3 separate regions of the Homo sapiens genome follow, and all the other regions are reported to be linked to region 3. The links are microRNA targets in miRTarBase. Many come from high-throughput screens and were not tested one by one. Region 3 holds a microRNA gene; each other region holds the end of a gene's coding sequence.

Region 1 (4,000 bases), not on the chromosome of region 3:
TTTGCACAGGCCACCCCCCTCTTCAGGCTGCTGCAGGAGGCCAGGCCCAGGCCAGAGACCCCAGGCAGCCTGAGCTCTTGGATGTGGTCAGCTCTCCAGGAGCAAGTCCTGTGTGGCAAAACTGCCTCCTACGGCGGCTCTGAAGCAGAGCCCTGGGACGGACCCCATGCTGTCCCCAACAGCTGGGGTGGCACTCTGCCCTGGGCACCCATGACCCTCTGCTGTCTCTCCCTGTTCAGCTGTTGGCCGGCCCTGCTACCTGACGCGCCAGAAGCACCCAGCCCTGCCCAGCAACCGGCCCCAGCAGCAGGTCCTGGTGCTGGCGGAGCCCAGGCGCAAGCCATCTACCTTCTGGCACAGCATCAGCCGGCTGGCACCCTTCCGCAAGTGAACTGGTCCCTGCCTGACAGCACCTGCTGGGCCTTCCTGCCAGTGGCCCCCAGTTTTTCTTCCCCGAGGCCCACTCGGCCTGGCCTTCCTCTGCCTGCAAGTGAGCAGGGATGGGCTGGGGAGTTGCTTGTGCCACCAAGACGTGCCAGGTCTGTACTCCTGTTGTCTTTTTCCCTGCTCCTGGTGCCCTGAAGAGACCAGCAAGGGGGCAGACCCCGCACTCGCCACACCGCCGCTGCAGCTTGGGCCCCATCCGCCCTCTGGACCTGTGTAGGGCCTCACTGCTGGAGCGGGGAAACCGCAGCTCAGCCCAGGCCCAGCTGGGGAGAAGGCGCTACCTGCGTGGGACCCTCTTCTCTGGAAACCTAATCCTCCTTTCATTTCCTCTGGGCAGGACTCTCTGGCCTTCTGTGGCCTGCAATGCCAGGCCATGTGCCCCTCTGCCCTCTAGTTCTCCAAGTCCCCAGCCCGGCCAGTGGTGCCAGGCAGCTTGCCACTTGGGAGGGCAGAAGCCAGGAATTCCACACCCTTGTGTTGCGCCCGGAGCCCGCCCTTCGCCTCCCAGCCCCTCAAGACACCGCTGGCTGCTGGACACCCTCTTCACTTGTGTGTGTGTGTGTAGCGGAAAAGGACAAGACGGTGCAGTCGGCTGCATACTCCCAGTCGGGAGTGTGGTCAGTCTGCCTGCTGCTGTGCGGTAGCTCCAGAACCACCTCGTTCCTGGTTTTGTTTGGATTTTGGCATCTTGTTTTTCTAACAACAAACAATGGAGAAAAAGAATTGATTCTTAGTGACACAGAAGATTGCCTTACGCTCGTGAGCGTGAGAAGCCATAAGAGAGAGACCGAATTCTGTGGCTCAGCACACAGGACTGACCCACAGCCCAGGCAGCGGGTGTGTGGAGATGGCGCCCTGTCCTGCCAAGGGGCGCCAGGAGCAGAGCCAGGGCCTGGCGAGCTGGCGTGGAGCCCACAGGATTCAGCAGCATGGACAGTCACTCTTGCACTATTCCTTCTCCAAGCCAGAAACCACATTTAATTTCATAAATAAATTTATGAAAAGTAACCTGGCTGCTAGCCCGTTTTCTGTGGGTGTGCGTGCATTTTCCTGTGGCCAGCAGCCTCTAAAGGTGGGGTGGGGGCTCACCTGTCGCAGATCACACCCTCGGGGATTTAGTGGAGATGATAGGCTGAGGCGGGGCTGGCTGCAGTTGTTCGCCTAAGGCGAGCAGGGCCAGGCCATGCTGGTTGCTGATGGGGAATACAGGTAGCTCTGCCCTCCCTTGCACTCAAGACCCAGAAACCAGTGCTTCCCTGTGTTTGTTTGACTGGAGCTGGCCCACGTGAGTTTGGTGGGTGAGTAGTCAGTAATCTTTCTGGGCCTCAGCATCCCTGGTGAAATGAGGAAGAACGTGTCTTCCCAGGGTCTTCTGACCCTGGCCACAGAAGCCAGAAGGGGAGCATGGTGCTGCTTCCCTCCCTGTCCCACTTGGGAAAATGGTCCCCTGCAACCTGCTGCCTCCACCACACTCCAGCACTGCCAAGGTCACTGGGGCTGGACGCCATGGTGGTCTTCTTCTCAAAACCCCTGGCAATCTCCCAACTTGAGAGAAGCCCCAGCACCTCCCAGTCAGGCCATGCTACCTCTAGACAAAAACCCATATGGAGAAATCATGAAAACCACAATATGCAACACAAGTCAATCTTTATTGAAAACTGCAGTATTAATACATAACAATTCTTGTTACAATAAACGTGCTTTTGAGATTTTTAAATCTGAGCTCATCTCATCAGATTGCATAAAAAATTAAAATAGTATCAATTGACACCTAACTGAACTGGCTCAGGATGGAAATTCCATTCCTTGGCATGGATACGTAAGTTCAATGCAGAGGTGAGGGATGCCTTTAACACTGGAAGACAATGCTGACTTAGCTTAAAAAAAGTACCGAGAGAACGGTGTAAAAAACGGTATTTAAAAATCATTTTTAAAAAAACAAAAAGGAACCGTTTCTTCTTTAGTTACAATCCATGAGGCTCTCTAGGGCCTCTCCGTGTGGCCAGCACAGCAACCCTGCTAGGAGCACAAACGGCTGGCCTGAGATCTGGCCCAGCTGCCTTGCCCACTGGTCTGCACAGGGACTCATGGGCACAGCCTGTGGTGAGGAGGAGACACCTGTCATGCCAGTCCTGGGAGCACACCACCCTTCTGCAGGCCCGGGGGGGGGTCCCTACACAGACGCCGCTCATCCTCTGTCTCCCCTTCCCAAGTGACTTCACTTCAGTCCTGTGGACCAAGATAAGGCTATCCCCACAGGCTCTCTCTTCTTCAAATAATGAGTAGGAAAAAGAGACAAACTTTCTGAAACATGCAGTTTCCGACCCAAATAGGCCACATACCCCAACTTCTGTGTTACTTGGTCAGTTGAGCCCCTGGAGCCCTCAGGACCTACTGATAAAGCATGTCCTCTGCAGTATACTCAAGAGTCTGCTGCCCTTCAGAAAGCCAGAGGGAACACTCACAAATGCAGAGGTACTAGAGGGGAGAAATACGTGCTCTGCCTTCCCCCAGGCCAACCACACTCTGCTTTAGAGACCCTCTCAGAAAGCACCAGAGAGGAGGACCAGACGCTGCCACCCACCTCAAGCCACACCCCTGCCACCTGCTGCTGCGCCCAATGGAGGTCCTGTCCTGTCCGGGCAACAGCCAAACTGGCGACAATGGACACATCCAACAGTCAGCTGTCGGATAAGGTGAAGGTGGCCCAACTGCTCAGAGTAACACTGTTCTCAAATGTTTAAAAAGGACAGGTGAAGTCTGGGTCTCCTTTTTTAAAGCAGACACCAATACTTACATAACTAGTACATGTTGGCCTTTCACCAGCACTCACTGGCACTCACAGGTGCCTTACATACCTTACGGGGGCCAACACTGACAGGTATTAGTACGTCGCAAGTTGCTGTAATAATGTATTTCCTCTCGTTACTGTTGTGTCCCCCAAGACACATGCAAATTATTTCCTAGACCTCATTCATCACAGCCAGATGATGCCACCAGAAAGAGCAAGGTACTGTATGCCCAGCTGGGGAAGGGCAAGACACTCACTGACCAGGTGCCCACCCCAAGGCTCAGGACCACCCCCATTGCCTGTGAACACATTTGCATAGCACTCAAGAAGGTTTCCCAGAATAGCGACAGGTAGGCCTACAAACCACACCAAGAAGAACGTTCTTAACAGATGGCTCACGAGAGACATAAAAGGTTCTGGAAGTGCCTTCAGGCCCATTACCATGACTGGCCCTGACTCTGGCCCTCACAGAGCGGCAAGTTCATGGGTCACTGGCTCACACTAAATGCTCAGCCGCCAGCACAGATCCAAACAAGACCTCCATGAGCAGAGAAACTGCAGCGGCTGAACACACTCCCCAAGCCTCAGGGGAGAAGGTGTAGAACAAATATTTTTTAAATAGCCATCATGATGTCCATGTTTACATGAACTAGGTCCTTTGCTTACCTGCTGTCTCAACTTCTAAAAGAATAGTAATTCAGCTGAAGGACTCCCAAATTAGGAATGTCAAACACACAAAAAGCAAATTTCTCAGAATGCTCC
Region 2 (4,000 bases), not on the chromosome of region 3:
ATTTTGATGACCTCTTTCGTGCACCAAGTGTGTGCATGCTTGATACGTGTGTGTTGTTTTCATTAAGATGAATTTGTGCGTGCCGTTTTGATTGTAAATATCTTTGGGTACTCTGTCTTCCTTCTTATCCCTCTACTTCCTGCCAGTGTTAACAACCTGAATGATAGTATCTTCCGGTGCTTTCGTTTCCCCATTGTTGTATATGTTTTCTTTTTAAAGGAAGCCCTCCTATGACACTGAAACAGATCCTAGTGAGGGATTGATGAATGTTCTAAAGAAAATTTATGAAGATGGAGACGATGATATGAAGCGAACCATTAATAAAGCCTGGGTGGAATCAAGAGAGAAGCAAGCCAAAGGAGACACGGAATTTTGAGACTTTAAAGTCGTTTTGGGAACTGTGATGTGATGTGGAAATACTGATGTTTCCAGTAAGGGAATATTGGTGAGCTGCATATATAAATTTGACAGATAGCTATTTACATAGCCTTCTAAGTAAAGGCAATGAATTCTCCATTTCCTACTGGAGGATTTATTTAAATAAAATATGCTTATTAAACACTCCTGCAAAGATGGTTTTATTAGTACCCTGGTCATTTTGTTCAAGGAAGGGTTATATTGCATTCTCACGTGAAATATAAAAAGCAAGTCTTGCCCAATAAAAACGCTACATTGTGTGTATTTTTTGTTCAGCTAAGAATTGGAAAAGTATTTGCTTGCCTTTTAAGTTACTGACATCAGCTTCCACCAGTGTAAAAATTGAGTAAAACCTGAAGTTTTGCATAAAATGCAAATCGGTGCCTGTGCTTGAAGGTTGCTGTAGAGCATCTGACCCCTTATTACCACCTTAAGCAATGTATATGCCATGCATTACCATGCACTAATTCAATCACAGGTGTTTCTATCTAGATTTAAATATATTTGTCAATGAATGTGGAATAGAAAATCTAAACATGACAATAATAGACATATCTTTGTATGGTACCAGTTAGTTTTGCCGTGGATCAGATGGTTTATAAAAGTAATAACCATAAAGCAAAAAATAATTTGAAAGCCCGTCTATTCCTATGCTCAATAAAGTTAAGTTTTTCTTCATTAGAACAGTTTTATGATTTATTTGTCTAGGAGTATGTCAGAAAAATCAGGCTTTTAGTAGGAATTACTCCTATTCCCCCTGAAGTCAGGACCAGTGCCTGTGATCTCCATTACTTTATTTTCCTGGAGGTATTAGCCAACACAGTTAGATCAGAGAAAGCAATTGAAGCCAGGCATGAAGGCTGGCGCCCGTAATCCCAGCTACTAAGGCTGGAGGATCACTTCAGCCCAGGAGTTTAAGGCTGCAGTGAGCTATGATGATGCCACTGTACTGCAGCTTGGGTAACAGATTGAGAACCTGTCTCATTAAAAAAAAAAAAAAAAAAAAAGCCGTTAGACACACAGGAAAAATCCAGAAGGGTAAACTAAACTAAAGCTACAATTAATATGGGAATTTGGAAGAAGTGGTAGGATTTAAAATACAGAAACAGTTTATGTATAGGATAGCTATAAGTAAATACTGAAACACATTATGCCTCTGTAATTGGGGTTGACACATGAACAGAATAGCAGACACAATGCATATGAAAGTTACAGAATATGGTAAAAGTGGGGTAAAGATGGGTTTTTAATGATACTAAGATAACTGAAAATAGGCATATAGATATATTCCAAGCCGCCTGACGATCTAATTGTAAAAAGTAAAGCATACAAATACTAGAAGAAAATGGAGGAAAACGACATTATATGTGACTTAAAACCTAGAAGAAATAAATAAAACTATTGATCAATTTTAACTACATAAAAATGTTTATAGGACAAGAAAAACCCCACCATAACCCAAGGCAAACAATGTATTGACAGGATTCCAATAATTAAGAATACTTCATACAAAAAGAAATGTAAATGACCTTTAACATGTAAAGATGCTCACCTTGTTCAGAAGAGAATAAACCAGTGTTTTTACCTTTCACTTGAAAAAGAAGTATAAAAACAACTGTATTGAGTTGAGGCTGTGGAGAAATAAGGACACATATATGGGAATGGAATGCAAAAGTTAAACTTTGGTTAACAAGAATATTTGGGCAGGTGCAGTGGCTCACACCTGTAATCCCAACACCTTGGGAGGCCAAGGTGGGCGGATCACTTGAGGTCAGGAGTTCAAGACCATCTGGCCAACATGGTGAAACCCTGTCTCTACTGAAAATAAAAAAAACTAGCTGGGCATGGTGGCAGATGCCTGTAACTCCAGCTACTCGGGAGACTGAAGGACAAGAATCACTTGAACCTGGGAAGCCGAGGGACGAGAATCACTGGAACCCGGGAGGCAGAGGTTGCAGTGAGCTGAGATTGTGCCACTGCACTCCAGCCTGGGTGACAGAGTAAGACTCTTGTCTCAGAAAGAGTATTTGGTAATAACCATCAGAATGACATATTCATTTATCCTTTGACCCAGAATTTTAACTTCTTTCTGGGCTCTGAAAGGTACATTTAGAAAAATTTGGAATGCTATATGCAAAAGATTAAAAATACTCGTGTCTATTTAACAGGAATGTATTATGGTGCATCCACATGAGGGAGTACTTAAGTCACAAAACAATGAAGAGTTCTATATAACGTAAAATGGTCTCCAGGATAGAGTAAGTGGAAAAGCAAAGTGCAGAACATTTATGGTATACCCACTACATTTGTGTAAGAAAGGGTGAGAAATGTGAATGTATGCACATAGGTGTATTTGCTTATGTTTCAAAAAGAAACGAGTAAACCCAAAGCTAATAAAAATTGTTAGCAGGGGAAGGAAGGAGATGAGGATGGAAGCTATTCTGTGAATTTAACTTTTTCTAGAGTTTTGACTTTAGAACCATCTAAAATTTAACATGACTGAAAAAGTAAAACATGACCCTAAACCTATCAACACATTGTCTTAGTCTATTCCTGCTGCTGTAACAAAATGCCATAGACTAAGAATTTATAAATAATATTTACTTCTTGCACTTCTGGAGGCTGGAGAAGTCTAAGATTTGGCACCAGCAGATTGGTGTTTGGTAAGGGCTTGCTTTCTGCTTCCAGTACGGTGCCTTCTCGCAGTATCAGAAGGGTAAAAGGGACAAACTCTCTCCCTCAAGCCCTCTTAGAAAGGCACTGATCCCATCCATGAGTGTGGAGCCCTCCTGGCCTAATCACCCCTAAGGGCCCCACCTCTTAATAATACCAACGCATTGTGGATTAGATTTTAATGTGAATTTTGGAAGTACACAAAATGTTCAAACTATAGCATGTATATATATCAAGTTGGCAGTATAAACTACTTGCAAGTAACTTTAGAACACAAGTGTTTGCCCATTGGTAGTGAGATGGATTCTAAGTTGAGATATTAGCTAGAACATTCCAGTTGGTAAGTTGTCATACATATTTAAGAAATATGAATCCAAACTAGATTGTGATAATTCCCTCATAACTTCACCTCCACCTGAGTTTCGGACTCTGCTATCCAGCTGCGTACTAGTCTTCATCAGATGACACAGGCATCTCCAACACCGCATGACTGGAACCTGAACTCGCTTATCTTCTGTTTCCCCTAAATTTGTTCTTTTTCCAAATTTTCTATCTTGGAGTTGCCCTCTTGGAATTGCCCTCTACCATCTATCTAGACACTTTTATCAGGAACCCAGAGAACCATCTTTACCTCTTAGATATAATCAGTCTTGTAAGTCTTGCCCAATTTTCTTTCCTAAAACTTTAAAAATCTGTCCTCTCTCCTCTACTAATACCACAATGTTAGTTCAGGCCTTCATCTTCCTCAACAACTAAGACATCCTCCTAACTGGTTGTCTTGCCTGTAGCTTTTTCCTCTCATGGCCATCTGCCACACAGCTGTCACTTACCTGTATTACAAACTGATGATGTCATTCCTGTGCTTAAAACTCTGTAATACCTGGTATGTCAGTCTTAATTCCTTCACATG
Region 3 (4,000 bases):
AGGCCAGGCTGGCCCTATCCGGGGAAGGGGCTCAGGTATCTGGACCTTGGTCATCGCCAGGTTAGGGTTTATGTTGATGATTATCCAAAGGCAAAATTGATTTCCACAGAAATAACATCTGCTTTGCTGCCGAGCTCAGAGGAGACCCCAGACCCCTCCCGCAGCCAGAGGGCTGGAGCCTGCTCAGAGGTGCTTTGAAGGTGAGTTGGCCAACGGAAGCCGGGGCAGTGCCAGGGTGGGTACAGATTCCGGCCCGGTGCATGGGCACAGGTCTGCTGAGCACATGTCCACTCTGCCTGTGTAAATAGGCCACATGGCCTGAAATCCCCTAGAAGCCTGGTGTCCGCATGACCTCCCCCTAGGGCGGAGCCTCTGCTTCCCTGTTCTCTTCTGCTCTGTCCTCTGGTGCCCTGAGGCTGGCCTCCAGGGGTGTCCCCTCTGTGGCCCTAGGCCTGCCTCCTTGCCTGGGTGTGCCTTTCTAAAATGGAGCGTCCAGCAGAGAGTGGGATCTCCTATGCCACTGGGAGCCCAGGGCCCCATCCCAGAAAGACCTCTGAGTGAGCACAGGGGCCCTAGAAGAAGTTTCCTTGTGTCCTTCCCGTTTTAGGGTCTGTGACCTGAACCCCTGGGCTTCTGCCTCAGGCCTCCTGTGCTCTGCTCTCTGCCTGCTGGGTCCCCTCACCAGGCTTCTGTCTGGTTCCCAGGCTACCTGCCTGGAGGGTCACACCAGGAGGATTTCAAACAGGTTTCAAGTGGGGTCACTTGCCATCACTGTGCCCCACGAGGTACACTGTTGTGGGCGGCAGGGCTGGCCTTTCTCATCTGGGACATGCCACGTTGCTGTTCCCAAGGGGAGTGGTGAGTGGGTCTGTCCTGGTGTGCCTGGCCTGGGGACTGCCAGTGTCCTTACTTGGACACTCAATGAAAAGGCCACATGAATCCCTGGGGCGTCCAGAGCATGGGTGACCAGCACGGGCTCACCACATGAGGCCAAGGGGCTGCACCATACAGCCTCTCCTTTGGCCACCCGTGACTACCCCCAACTCCGGGCCATGGGGCTTCCCTACCCCTGGGTGTCCTCTAAGCCAGCTGGGAGACAACAGCCTGAGTCCGTGTCTGCTTCTGTATTTTGTGTGGTTTTAGAGGATCCCTGGGCTGCCTGGGGAAGCACCCAGGGCCAGGGAGTGTGACCCTGCAGGCTCCACACAGGACTGCCAGAGGCACACACCTGCTCTGTCTACCCGAGGGCACCAGAGGGCACGAGAAGGCTGGCTCCCTGGCGCTGACACGTCAGGCAACTGAGGCACAAGGCTGGCATTTCTGAACCTTGCCCCTCTGCAAACACAAGGGGGCGATGGTGGCACTCCAAGCAAAGGGGCGTGTGGGTGCTGCAGGAGGAGCACAGAGCACTGGCGCCCCTCCCCTCCCGCCCTGCAGATGCCGGAGGCCCCGCCTCTGCTGTTGGCAGCTGTGTTGCTGGGCCTGGTGCTGCTGGTGGTGCTGCTGCTGCTTCTGAGGCACTGGGGCTGGGGCCTGTGCCTTATCGGCTGGAACGAGTTCATCCTGCAGCCCATCCACAACCTGCTCATGGGTGACACCAAGGAGCAGCGCATCCTGAACCACGTGCTGCAGCATGCGGAGCCCGGGAACGCACAGAGCGTGCTGGAGGCCATTGACACCTACTGCGAGCAGAAGGAGTGGGCCATGAACGTGGGCGACAAGAAAGGTGGGGTCCGGGCCAGCAGGTGCTCAGCTCTGGGACAGGGACCCAGGACCAGGCATCAAAGCCCTTACAGGAGAAGCTGTTATCACCCCATTTCCAGGGGGCTGGGAACCCTGGGATATGCCCAGATAGGGCTGGGGGGCTCCTCTGGAGTCCCAGGGTGCCAGGGTCCCTGATGACCCCTGCAGGCCCTGCTGCCTGCTGCCCCAGGACAACAGGCCCCCACACTCACAGGGTCTGACGGTGGTGCAGTTCCCCTTGAACTCTGTTCTGGCCACCATGGGACCTGCCTGGGGACCAGTCAGACAGGTTCTCCTGGGCCCGCCTCCCGCTTGAACTTCAGCCTGGGGCACAGGATGTGTTACCGGGCTCACGGAGTGACTCAGGGAACTAGTGCCGCCCCAGGGCCCCAAGGTGGGCGGTTCGGTGATTCAGAGAGGGCAGCTCTGTGTTAGGACACACTGGGGCCAGCCAGGAAGGGTGGAAAAGATAGGGACCAGCGTGAGCATAGAGGCTAAGGGACCATGGGAGCTCCAAGCGCGCTCACAGTGGGGACCAGGTCCTGGGGGCTGGGGACACCAGGGAGGTGAAATACCCCTCCAGCGGGTAGGGAGGGTGGGCAGAGGAGGGCCAGCGGCCAGGCATTTGGGAGGGGCTCCTGCTCTTTGGGAGAGGTGGGGGGCCGTGCCTGGGGATCCAAGTTCCCCTCTCTCCACCTGTGCTCACCTCTCCTCCGTCCCCAACCCTGCACAGGCAAGATCGTGGACGCCGTGATTCAGGAGCACCAGCCCTCCGTGCTGCTGGAGCTGGGGGCCTACTGTGGCTACTCAGCTGTGCGCATGGCCCGCCTGCTGTCACCAGGGGCGAGGCTCATCACCATCGAGATCAACCCCGACTGTGCCGCCATCACCCAGCGGATGGTGGATTTCGCTGGCGTGAAGGACAAGGTGTGCATGCCTGACCCGTTGTCAGACCTGGAAAAAGGGCCGGCTGTGGGCAGGGAGGGCATGCGCACTTTGTCCTCCCCACCAGGTGTTCACACCACGTTCACTGAAAACCCACTATCACCAGGCCCCTCAGTGCTTCCCAGCCTGGGGCTGAGGAAAGACCCCCCCAGCAGCTCAGTGAGGGTCTCACAGCTCTGGGTAAACTGCCAAGGTGGCACCAGGAGGGGCAGGGACAGAGTGGGGCCTTGTCATCCCAGAACCCTAAAGAAAACTGATGAATGCTTGTATGGGTGTGTAAAGATGGCCTCCTGTCTGTGTGGGCGTGGGCACTGACAGGCGCTGTTGTATAGGTGTGTAGGGATGGCCTCCTGTCTGTGAGGACGTGGGCACTGACAGGCGCTGTTCCAGGTCACCCTTGTGGTTGGAGCGTCCCAGGACATCATCCCCCAGCTGAAGAAGAAGTATGATGTGGACACACTGGACATGGTCTTCCTCGACCACTGGAAGGACCGGTACCTGCCGGACACGCTTCTCTTGGAGGTGAGCCCCAACCAGGATGGCATCCGTGCCAGCTGCTGCCCAGAGCCCATTCAGTCAGCCTCAGCCTCTCCAAAGAGCCAGGCATTCCAGTAGAGCCCTGTGTGGACACAGCTCGCTCTGGAGGCACCACCTGAGGTCTGGGAGTGTGGGGGACTGAGGAGGCCCTGTGGTGGGTGGAGATGGGTGGGGAGCTGGGCCAGGGGCCTGGCTGGGTGGCCTGTTGGGAACTGGGGAGCCAGCTGCCTGTGCAGGTGCAAAATGGGTGGCAGAAGTGGGGTGCACACCCCAGACCAGACACCAGGGCAGAAACGGCACAGGACCAAGGAGATGGGGTGGGGAAGGGCCGCTCTGGGCCCAGCCTGCTCTCCCCCAAGCAAGCCACTGCTCGTGCAAAGAAAGCATGTGTCTCCTGCAGATCTTCCTCCTGAGGCCCCATCTTGTGCATTCCCCCAACCCAGCCCCACTGGCGAGGACCCTGAGTGCCCCGAGTGAGGCTAGACAGCGGGTGGGGCTGTCCTCGCTTCCCTGGGGGGCGTGGGGCACTGGTGGCCCTTCACAGACTGATGCTTAAGGAGCCTCACATCAGTGACACACTGCCCCATCCCTCCCTGGTGGTCAGCGACACTGAGTGGCTCTGTGATCCTCCACTGGGCTTGGGACACCCACCCTCACGGCCTCCCCACCTGGTGCTCGCTCACCTGCAGCTCTCCCAGAAACTGGACACTGCTGTTAGCAGCCGGACTAGGAGCACGAGGGGCACAGCCCCCATGCCTGGCTAGGTAGGGCCGCT

Evidence for each region. Region 3 holds the annotated microRNA hsa-miR-4761-5p (ACAAGGUGUGCAUGCCUGACC, at 2,666-2,686, shown strand). A microRNA usually pairs through its seed, bases 2 to 8, with sites in the 3' UTR of a target mRNA and lowers its output. Matches are read on the target gene's strand: a 7mer-m8 pairs with bases 2 to 8, a 7mer-A1 pairs with bases 2 to 7 and ends in A, and an 8mer does both.
Region 1: the mRNA of ARHGEF4 is a reported target of hsa-miR-4761-5p. The part of its 3' UTR that is shown has no 7-base or 8-base seed match.
Region 2: miRTarBase lists CACYBP as a target of hsa-miR-4761-5p. Seed matches in the 3' UTR shown: 7mer-m8 at 1,967-1,973 and 7mer-m8 at 2,153-2,159.

What each region holds. Positions count from the first base shown.
Region 1 is chr2:131,045,799-131,049,798 of GRCh38, forward strand. It overlaps ARHGEF4 (Rho guanine nucleotide exchange factor 4), which reads left to right. Exons shown (of 14, transcript NM_001367493.1): 14 at 240-1,455. The coding sequence ends at 391. It overlaps FAM168B (family with sequence similarity 168 member B), which reads right to left. Exons shown (of 7, transcript NM_001009993.4): 7 at 2,078-4,000. Among named protein-coding and RNA genes, the nearest start is that of SMIM39, 13 kb to the left of the region's middle.
Region 2 is chr1:175,009,704-175,013,703 of GRCh38, forward strand. CACYBP (calcyclin binding protein) reads left to right here. Exons shown (of 6, transcript NM_014412.3): 6 at 220-2,324. The coding sequence ends at 376. MRPS14 (mitochondrial ribosomal protein S14) reads right to left here. Exons shown (of 3, transcript NM_022100.3): 3 at 3,255-4,000. Among named protein-coding and RNA genes, the nearest start is that of MRPS14, 12 kb to the right of the region's middle. RefSeq lists a silencer at 2,956-3,156.
Region 3 is chr22:19,961,090-19,965,089 of GRCh38, forward strand. It overlaps MIR4761 (microRNA 4761), which reads left to right and starts at 2,664; the gene lies at 2,664-2,745. It overlaps COMT (catechol-O-methyltransferase), which reads left to right. Exons shown (of 6, transcript NM_000754.4): 2 at 110-200; 3 at 1,438-1,726; 4 at 2,477-2,670; 5 at 3,079-3,210. The coding sequence starts at 1,438. RefSeq lists enhancers at 1,005-1,720, 1,721-2,436, 2,437-3,152.